Homo sapiens: one gene and its partner. The protein of the gene in region 1 interacts with the protein of each later gene in a pairwise test. Each region holds a gene or a part of one and is shown on either strand. Other genes may lie near its edges.

Region 1 (3,425 bases):
CCCAAAAGATACAAAATGTATTCTGTTATTGTGTTTCTATAGGGGTACCTATTTCATTTTTAAGCTCTAAGTTTTGTGATTCTTTTCTTGAAAGCACCAAGTTTCCACTGCACTTCTCCCTCCTCAATCAATTTCCTAACACAGAGTTTCTCAACCTTAGGAAACAAACTAGTATCCCATGAAGAAGTTTAATTTTCTGGGAAGGCAGGAAACTCATTTAATCCTTCTAGCAGTTAGAGAAGAACCATTTATTATTAGTGACATGGATATAGATGCTCAGGAAGGGATAGCTATGTTCTATACATTTTTATCCCATTATATTGTTAAGTTGTTTGCATATTTGATCTAGATGGTCAAGAAGCCCTAGAAGTTGACTGTAGCATTGAAAGGAGGTCTATTTTCAGTTTGGCAACTGACCTGGCTAGGTTACAAAATGAATGTAACTTGCCTTGAGGCACAAGGAGTGGTACATTAACAAATCACTGTAGCCACTAAAATGGTCCATTGCATACGGTTTATTTCACTAGATTGCAATTTTATACACAGTATGAAGGGGTTTCCTGATAGCACATATATAGTTTACTTTCTGTACTGCTGAAGAACCAATTGTTTTTTACATTGTATCATAATACCCTATCATTAAAACATTATTCAGTGAATTTTTTCCAACTACATATAAACGGAGATTTACCACACACATTCTTTACCATGGTGCAAGAATGCCTTTATAACATATTTGAATCACAAAATGTGAGTCTAAAATACATCACTGTAATTAAAACACTACTTTAAAGTTACAATGCCCCATGTTATAGTAGCCAGATTTGATTAATCCCTGTATAAATCACAAAGCAATTTGGTGGATAATGTCTTGGCTAACTGGCAGCAGCTTTTAACCGTGATATTAAAAAAAAAATTCTTTAATTAAGAACCAGACTTTCACAATTTAGAAAACTTCTTCCCTTATATGTCAATATTCTCAGTCAAAATGGGATATTTAAAAATTTGTAGTCTCTAAAACAAGGAAAATAAATCCAACCCTCCCTTAGCTGAAAGGATGCGGTTCTAACATTAGGTTTCGTAGAAACCTAAGAATAGCATTGTACGAGGAGTGGAAACAAGTCATAAGAAACATAACATTTCTTTTAAAACCTCTTAAATTCCTCTGCCCCTCCCCATCTCTGTCAAACACAGAGAAAGAATACTGCATTACAAACAAAGATGTGTTTCCGTGAAATGATGTAAACAAGTCAGAGAGAAAGATTTCTTCATTTTCCTATTTTGTGGAGTGGGGCAGTGGGATATCAGTTAAATAAGAAATAGAGCTCCTTAATCAAAGAACCACTTCATTACACACAAAACAGCTCGGGGCAACTGCTGAAAACTTCTCCTGTGTTTCCTTTCCTTTTCCCCAAAGTTTGAGAATGTTTGAAAGTTCAATAAATAGTAGAAAAATAATCCTTTACTTAGAAATTCTGAGATGCATCGTTTAGAGCATAACATGAGTTCCATACAGCAACTGTGGTATCCAGGTACCGCTAAGAAACAAAGCGAAATCTTCAATGCACACATTTGTATCTGCATGTGCCACATTCCAGTCTCTGGGTGAGCAGATTTTTCTCTCTTCCAGTTAAGGAGAGCTGAATGCTTCTGGCTCTTTGGAACATTCCTCTGGCTCAGCTTCACTTGCAGGTTCCGTCTCTGTGTTTGGAGGTTCGCCTTCTGTTACCTTCCATTAGTGTTATGGCAGGTCTGTTCATCAGGCTTATTTCCCCTCCATTTCAGAACCAGCCTCACATCTTCACAAATGTGACTGTGTTGTTGTTTCTCTCGTTTTTAACCATGTCGACAGGCAGGAAATGACTCAAACAACTCTGCACAAAGCACAAACACAAGGGAGGTCTCTTGCTGTGGGTTTTAAGCCGGTTCTTTTTCTTTCCAGAACATTCTGTAGCTCCCAGATCTCATCTTGGCGTGGAGGTGAGGAGATTGTTAGCATTCTGCATCGACAGTGTGTACCGTGACGGCCGCCTGTAAGTGGTGGCTATGATGAAGTGTAGGGTGGTGTGACCGGTAGTGGTGGAACTTGTGACTTAGTAGGGCAGCAGTCTGAGGGGGGGTATCCAGGTCTAAGTCCTCATCATGGTTTCCCACATCGACCCCGGCTGACAAGGGGTCATTGTTGCATGGAGGATTTTCACTGTCCTCCTGTGGGCTCATGGTGCTGTAACCTAGAAAAAGAACAAAACAAACACACAGCTGAGAGCTTCAAGACGCAGACAGAAGATTTCACCTACAATTTCTAGGGCACTGGGAGGTATTCCTGTCTTTGCAATACATAGGTGCAAACACTGGCAGACTGTCAGCAGATGCTAAAGTAATTTATTTTTAAAGAGATTTAGTGATAACTCTTTTTTTCCCTTAAAAAACAATGACACAATAAATACATAACCACTTCAGACAGCTGAGAAAGTACAGAGGAGAAAAAAAAAATAAACAAGAACCCTTATCCCAAATCCCCAAACCAGCAACACAAAAATGAAAATCACACTACATCCCATCATCCATGGCGAGCCACCACTGGGGACCTATCTTTCTACACTTTTACCTATGATAAAGATAATCTTTTTTATTAAAGAAATCCAAAAAATGGACAGCTTCAAGAAGAAGATCTGAACAGGATTCAGATCAACTGGGGCTGGTGCGGAAATCTGGGCTTCCGCCTGAATGCCTGAATGTGACGCCACAATAGAACAAAAAGAACCATCACCATCACCTGCGTGCTTGCTTGGTAGCAGGCACTTGTGTCAGGCAATTCTTGCACACCAATGGTGATATATTTTAATATACATTTTACAATTCAGGGAAATGATGATCAGAGAGGTTAAGGAATTTGCCCAAAGTTCTAGTGCCTAATGAAACACTAACTCCACATATACCCAGGGCAACTAGCTGTGCAATCAGCTATTCTCTGTGTTAGCTGCCCCCCACCCCATTTAAATTTAATTTCTTTTGGTATTCTAAGTAATACATGTTTCAAAGGCAAATGCCCTTGCTGATCAAAGGATTCCATTCTGAGATTCCTGGCATGTTTTTAAATATTGCAAAAATCTCCTTTAAACATTTTAAGAAGCAACAGCTCATTAATATTTCCATTGCATCTACAGTTAGCGTCAATCAGCACTTACCCGTGGGTAATGCTAGTCACATTCATGGCTGCAAAATTGATGTTCTTGCATGCAGCCAAGCAGGAGTCATTGGTGGTTGAAATTGTATGCTCTGTGCAAAAATTCTGTCCTCAATGAAACATTACTCAAATGATAGAATTATTTAGCTGTCAGTCCAACTTAACAAATATTTACTGCGTACCTATAATATACAAGTCACTGTGTTGGGCACTGGAAGACATATAAAGATGAAAGCCT
Region 2 (3,978 bases), on another chromosome or scaffold:
CTGTAGCAGATAGGGCTTTCAATGTGTCTTTTGTTTGATGCTGATGTTTCAACATCCTCGACTTGAAGAGGGAAAGGTCAGCCCAAGGCTTGGGGTATTCACAAACCCACCCGGCCCCTGCACTGGGGCCAGGAGCCAGCAAGTGAGGGGCCAGGAATTTCCCCCACTCTGGACCCCCTCACAAAGCAGCCGGGGCTGAGAAGGCTAAGAAAGAGCTTGCTCTCTCATCTCAACTTCCCCGATAGCTCAACAGCAGCTTCACACTCCCGGGACCGTACAAGCGCCAGCGAACGCAGGCTGGAATTCACCAGCGCCAAGCTGCCCGGCTCTCCAGCCCCGGCGCCTGCCTCTTTATCTGTACCTTCAAAAACAGTAATAAGCAAACCCAGGCACCTCTGGGAACAGCCTCTGGCCTCCTGCCCTGCCCTGTGTAACCAGCCTGTCCTCACACCCACCAGGGAGGAGGAGTCGGCACTGGTTAACCCTCTGGTCTACCAGGCCCGGTTCCCAGGTTGCAGCAGGGAGACAAACTGTTGCTCAAGAAAATCCTTCAGAAAACCCTTGGCACCAGGAGGCAGCTCGGAGCGGCTCTGCACCCGGCGCGGAGCCAGGGGCTTCCACAGGCGGCCGCCCACTGCCCTTTTAAATCTTTGGGGCTGGGCCCTACTCTCCCATGCCCTGGGCTGTCCACCCAGAGGGCTCCAAATGTCCGTGGCAGAGCAGAGAGGAGGGAAAGGCTGGCCGAGCCGTGCCCTCACCCCGCCAGCCCAGCCGCCAGCTTCTTGGAGGACCTCTGAGAGAACATTTGTTTGGGCTGCCAAGTTAAATCTTCCTCCCTCATGTCAGGGCATTGGAAAAGCAGTCAGGGGAGAGGAGAAGGGGGAGAGCGCGCGGGGGAAGGAGCAGCGGGAGGGAGGGAGGGAGGGAGGCAGGCGGGCAGGCTCAAAGCCCCAGTTACTCGGGCACTGCCTACCCAGGAAGCTGACGGCTCCCGGGCAGGCGCAGCCGGGGCTCCGGGCACCGAAGCAGGGACCCGGCCGTCAGGCCTCCCCGGTCAGGCAAGGGTACCAAGCACCCTTGGCCCACCTGGGAGCGGCCCTCGCTCTGTGACCTGCTGGAGGGACGAGGTGGGAAGGGAAGGCAGAGAAGGAAAAAGTTTGCTGCAGGTAGAGGGGTAGGGCTGGGCGGCAGTGCCGACCGGCTGTCCCCGGGGAGGGGTGGGGGGCCCGGACCGGCTGCCCTGGCGCGCTCCCGTCCGCCCGCCCTCCCGCCCGGGTTGTTTACATTCCTGGAGTGTCTTTTAAACCCGGGGCTGAGGCCGGCTCCCGGCCTTCTCCGGCGGCTCCGGGGCAGTCTCCCGTGAAAATCTGCTGGCGCACAATGGCCGGGAAGGCGGCCGCCCCTCGCCCGCGCCCCCACCGCTCCAGGGCGGGGAGCCTGCCCTCCGCACCGCGCCCTATCCCCGCCCGGCCGGCTTCCTGGACAGATGTCCCCAGCGAGGGGGCGACGCGCGCCCGCTGCCCGCGCCCTAGACGCCGAGGCCGCGCTCCCCACTGTTTTTTCCCCAGCCCAGACGCCAGGAATGTGAAGCAAGCTTCCAGAACCCGCCTCCCCCCCCCGACCCCGGCTCCAGCCCCGGCCCCCCAACCTCCGCCCCGGCTGGCCTCCCACTCCCCCGGGGCCACCGCCGCCGGAGACGGAGAGGAAGAAAGAACACGGGGAAATTACTTTCGTATTTGCAACGCGCGCGCGCACACACACGCACATCTTCCCCCTGGGCTCCCCTCCTGGCCGGGGCAGCCCCGTCCAGGCACTGGCCTGAGCGCCCCTCTGGCTTGCGAAGCCCTGGGAGAAAACCCTGCACACACACCTCCGCGTTTCTCGTTTGTACCGCGCGCCAGCTTTCCCCGGGCAATTCCCACACAAACAACTTAACCGCGCCCCCACCTCCCATTTACAAAAGTGTATGTTTTCCCTGGAAATTCAGACGCACAAGTTAACACCACCACCCCTTGCCATCCTGAAATCCAGCGCTTTCCCCAGCGGTTCCTGTACACACACAGGCGCACAACTTCGCATCTCCCCAGAGGAGGCGAAGGAGACCGAGGCGGTCCTTCCCTCCCTCCTCCGATTCCCGGTCCTGCCCGGCCCCCGGGTGTAGGGAGCGAGGGCTGGAGGCGCGCCGGCAGGAGGCGGGCACCGGGTCCGCGCGCGCACGACCACACTTACGCCCCGCACACCCTGACAAACCCGGCCCCCACGCGCAGCCCAAGCCGGCTCCGCGCAGCCGGGAGCTCGCCGGCCGCCGGGCCTCGGCCCCCGGCCGCCAAGGAGAGCGGAGCGGAGCCCGCGCCGCCGGCCGGTCGCCCCGCTCCGGGGGACACTTTAAGGGAAAAACCCCAGCACCCAATCCCCACGCTTGCACCCCGAGAGTCCCCGGGGAGCGGGAGGTAGCCCCGGAGCCAGCGGGCGCCTGGCTCTGGCCCCAAACTTACCGGGCGCTGCGAGCGCCGCTGCCGCCGCTGGAGGACGCGCCGCCGCCACCGCCGGGTAGGGCAGGCTCGGGCCGGGAGGAGCGCAGCGAGGGCGCCGAGATCCGCTCGGCTCCGGCTCCTGCTCCGCGCCGGCTGGGGCTGGGGTCACCGCGCTGCGCCGGCGTTGCTCGCTCGCTCGGCCGCCCGATCGCTGCTCGCCCGCCTGCCGCCCGGCCGCCCGCTCTCCCCGGCGCCCGCCGCCGCCGCTCGCTTTTTTAATGTCCACAGACAGTGAAAAGGAACTCGGCGTTAGGGGGTGAGTAAGTGAATCAACTCGCCCGGAGCCGAGCAAGTTGAAGTGTCAGATTACATTGGCTATTCTATTTCCAAAGGGCCCCGCGCCGCCGGCCGCCCGCAAAAGCCGGTGCGGAGTCAGGCCGGAGTGGAGCGCCGCGCCGCGCCGCCGCCGCTGCCGGCGCTCGGCTTGGCTCGCGCTCTGCGCTCTCTTTCCCCTTTCCTTTTCGCCTCTCCTCGTTCTCTCCCTCGCCTTTCCTTTCCTTTCTCTTCCTCTCTTCCTCGCTCCTCGGTCTCGGCGCTCTCCCAGCTTTTCTTCTCCTGGCTCCTGGTTCCCCGCTACGCCACCAGTCCACTCACCTCTCTCCTTGCCCTACTCCCTCCGCTACTCCCTGACGCCCCCTGCAGCCCCCAGCCCCCCTGCAGGCCCCAGCCCCAGTAAGTTTGGAGAGGGGAACAAATGCTGAGCCTAGGTAGGGACCACCTTGGGGAGGAAGCCAAAATCACACTGCTCACCCGAGAGCCCCTGCCCCGCGCTGGCACGCCCCCGCCTGGAGTGCACTCGTGGCCCCGGGCGCTGTCAGGTACCCGAATTGGGGTAAGCGAGTTGGTAACTGGACCTCCAAAGCCTTCCCCTGGGGTTGACTTTGGAATTGTTCCTACAGCCCGGGGACTGGTGGTTGGGGTGGGAAGAGGACCACCACCACCAAGGGTGACTTTGAGGGAGACTAGAGCGCGGCCCCCCGACAGCTGTGGGGGAGCGGGGGTGTGGTGGCCACAGTTGATCCGCGGCACCTAGCACAGTCCAGAGACGCGTGGATTCCCCTAGGCCCGGCGCGGAGCGCCCGGGGCGCTGTGCGCGCGGGCTGCGTGGGAGCTGCTAGGCTGGGGCCTGGCCCTCTGCCCCGGACTGGGCACTGCCAGAGATAGCGGAGAGCTAAGGTACTCACGAGGCGCAGTTGGGTGCACCCACTCGCGGGAGTTCCCCTAGCCGACCCACCCCCCCCCCCCGAGAGCATCCAACTACGCGCCCACTTTGGCTCACGTCCACTGCCACTCTCACGGAAACTCCTACAAGAACGGCACACACGTTCGCTCCCTCAGCATTGCAAACACGCTCCCCCCCAAACCACAAACGCGCCCCCACACACTCGCTTACTTTCCCTCACAAAGATGCCCGCTTACACGGCCACAGCAGGCACGCTCAGAG

What was found. The genes of interacting proteins can lie anywhere in the genome.
Region 2: the proteins of CACHD1 (region 1) and ZMIZ1 interact in a two-hybrid assay, tested with the Homo sapiens proteins (one large-scale study listed by IntAct).

The regions. Positions count from the first base shown.
Region 1 is NC_000001.11:64,690,129-64,693,553, reverse strand, and holds the end of CACHD1 (VWFA and cache domain-containing protein 1 isoform 1 precursor), read right to left. Parts: intron 2,232-3,425; coding exon 1,993-2,231; 3' UTR 501-1,992; downstream 1-500. UniProt on the Homo sapiens protein: May regulate voltage-dependent calcium channels.
Region 2 is NC_000010.11:79,067,788-79,071,765, reverse strand, and holds the start of ZMIZ1 (zinc finger MIZ domain-containing protein 1), read right to left. Parts: upstream 2,801-3,978; 5' UTR 2,496-2,800; intron 1-2,495. UniProt on the Homo sapiens protein: Acts as a transcriptional coactivator. Increases ligand-dependent transcriptional activity of AR and promotes AR sumoylation. The stimulation of AR activity is dependent upon sumoylation.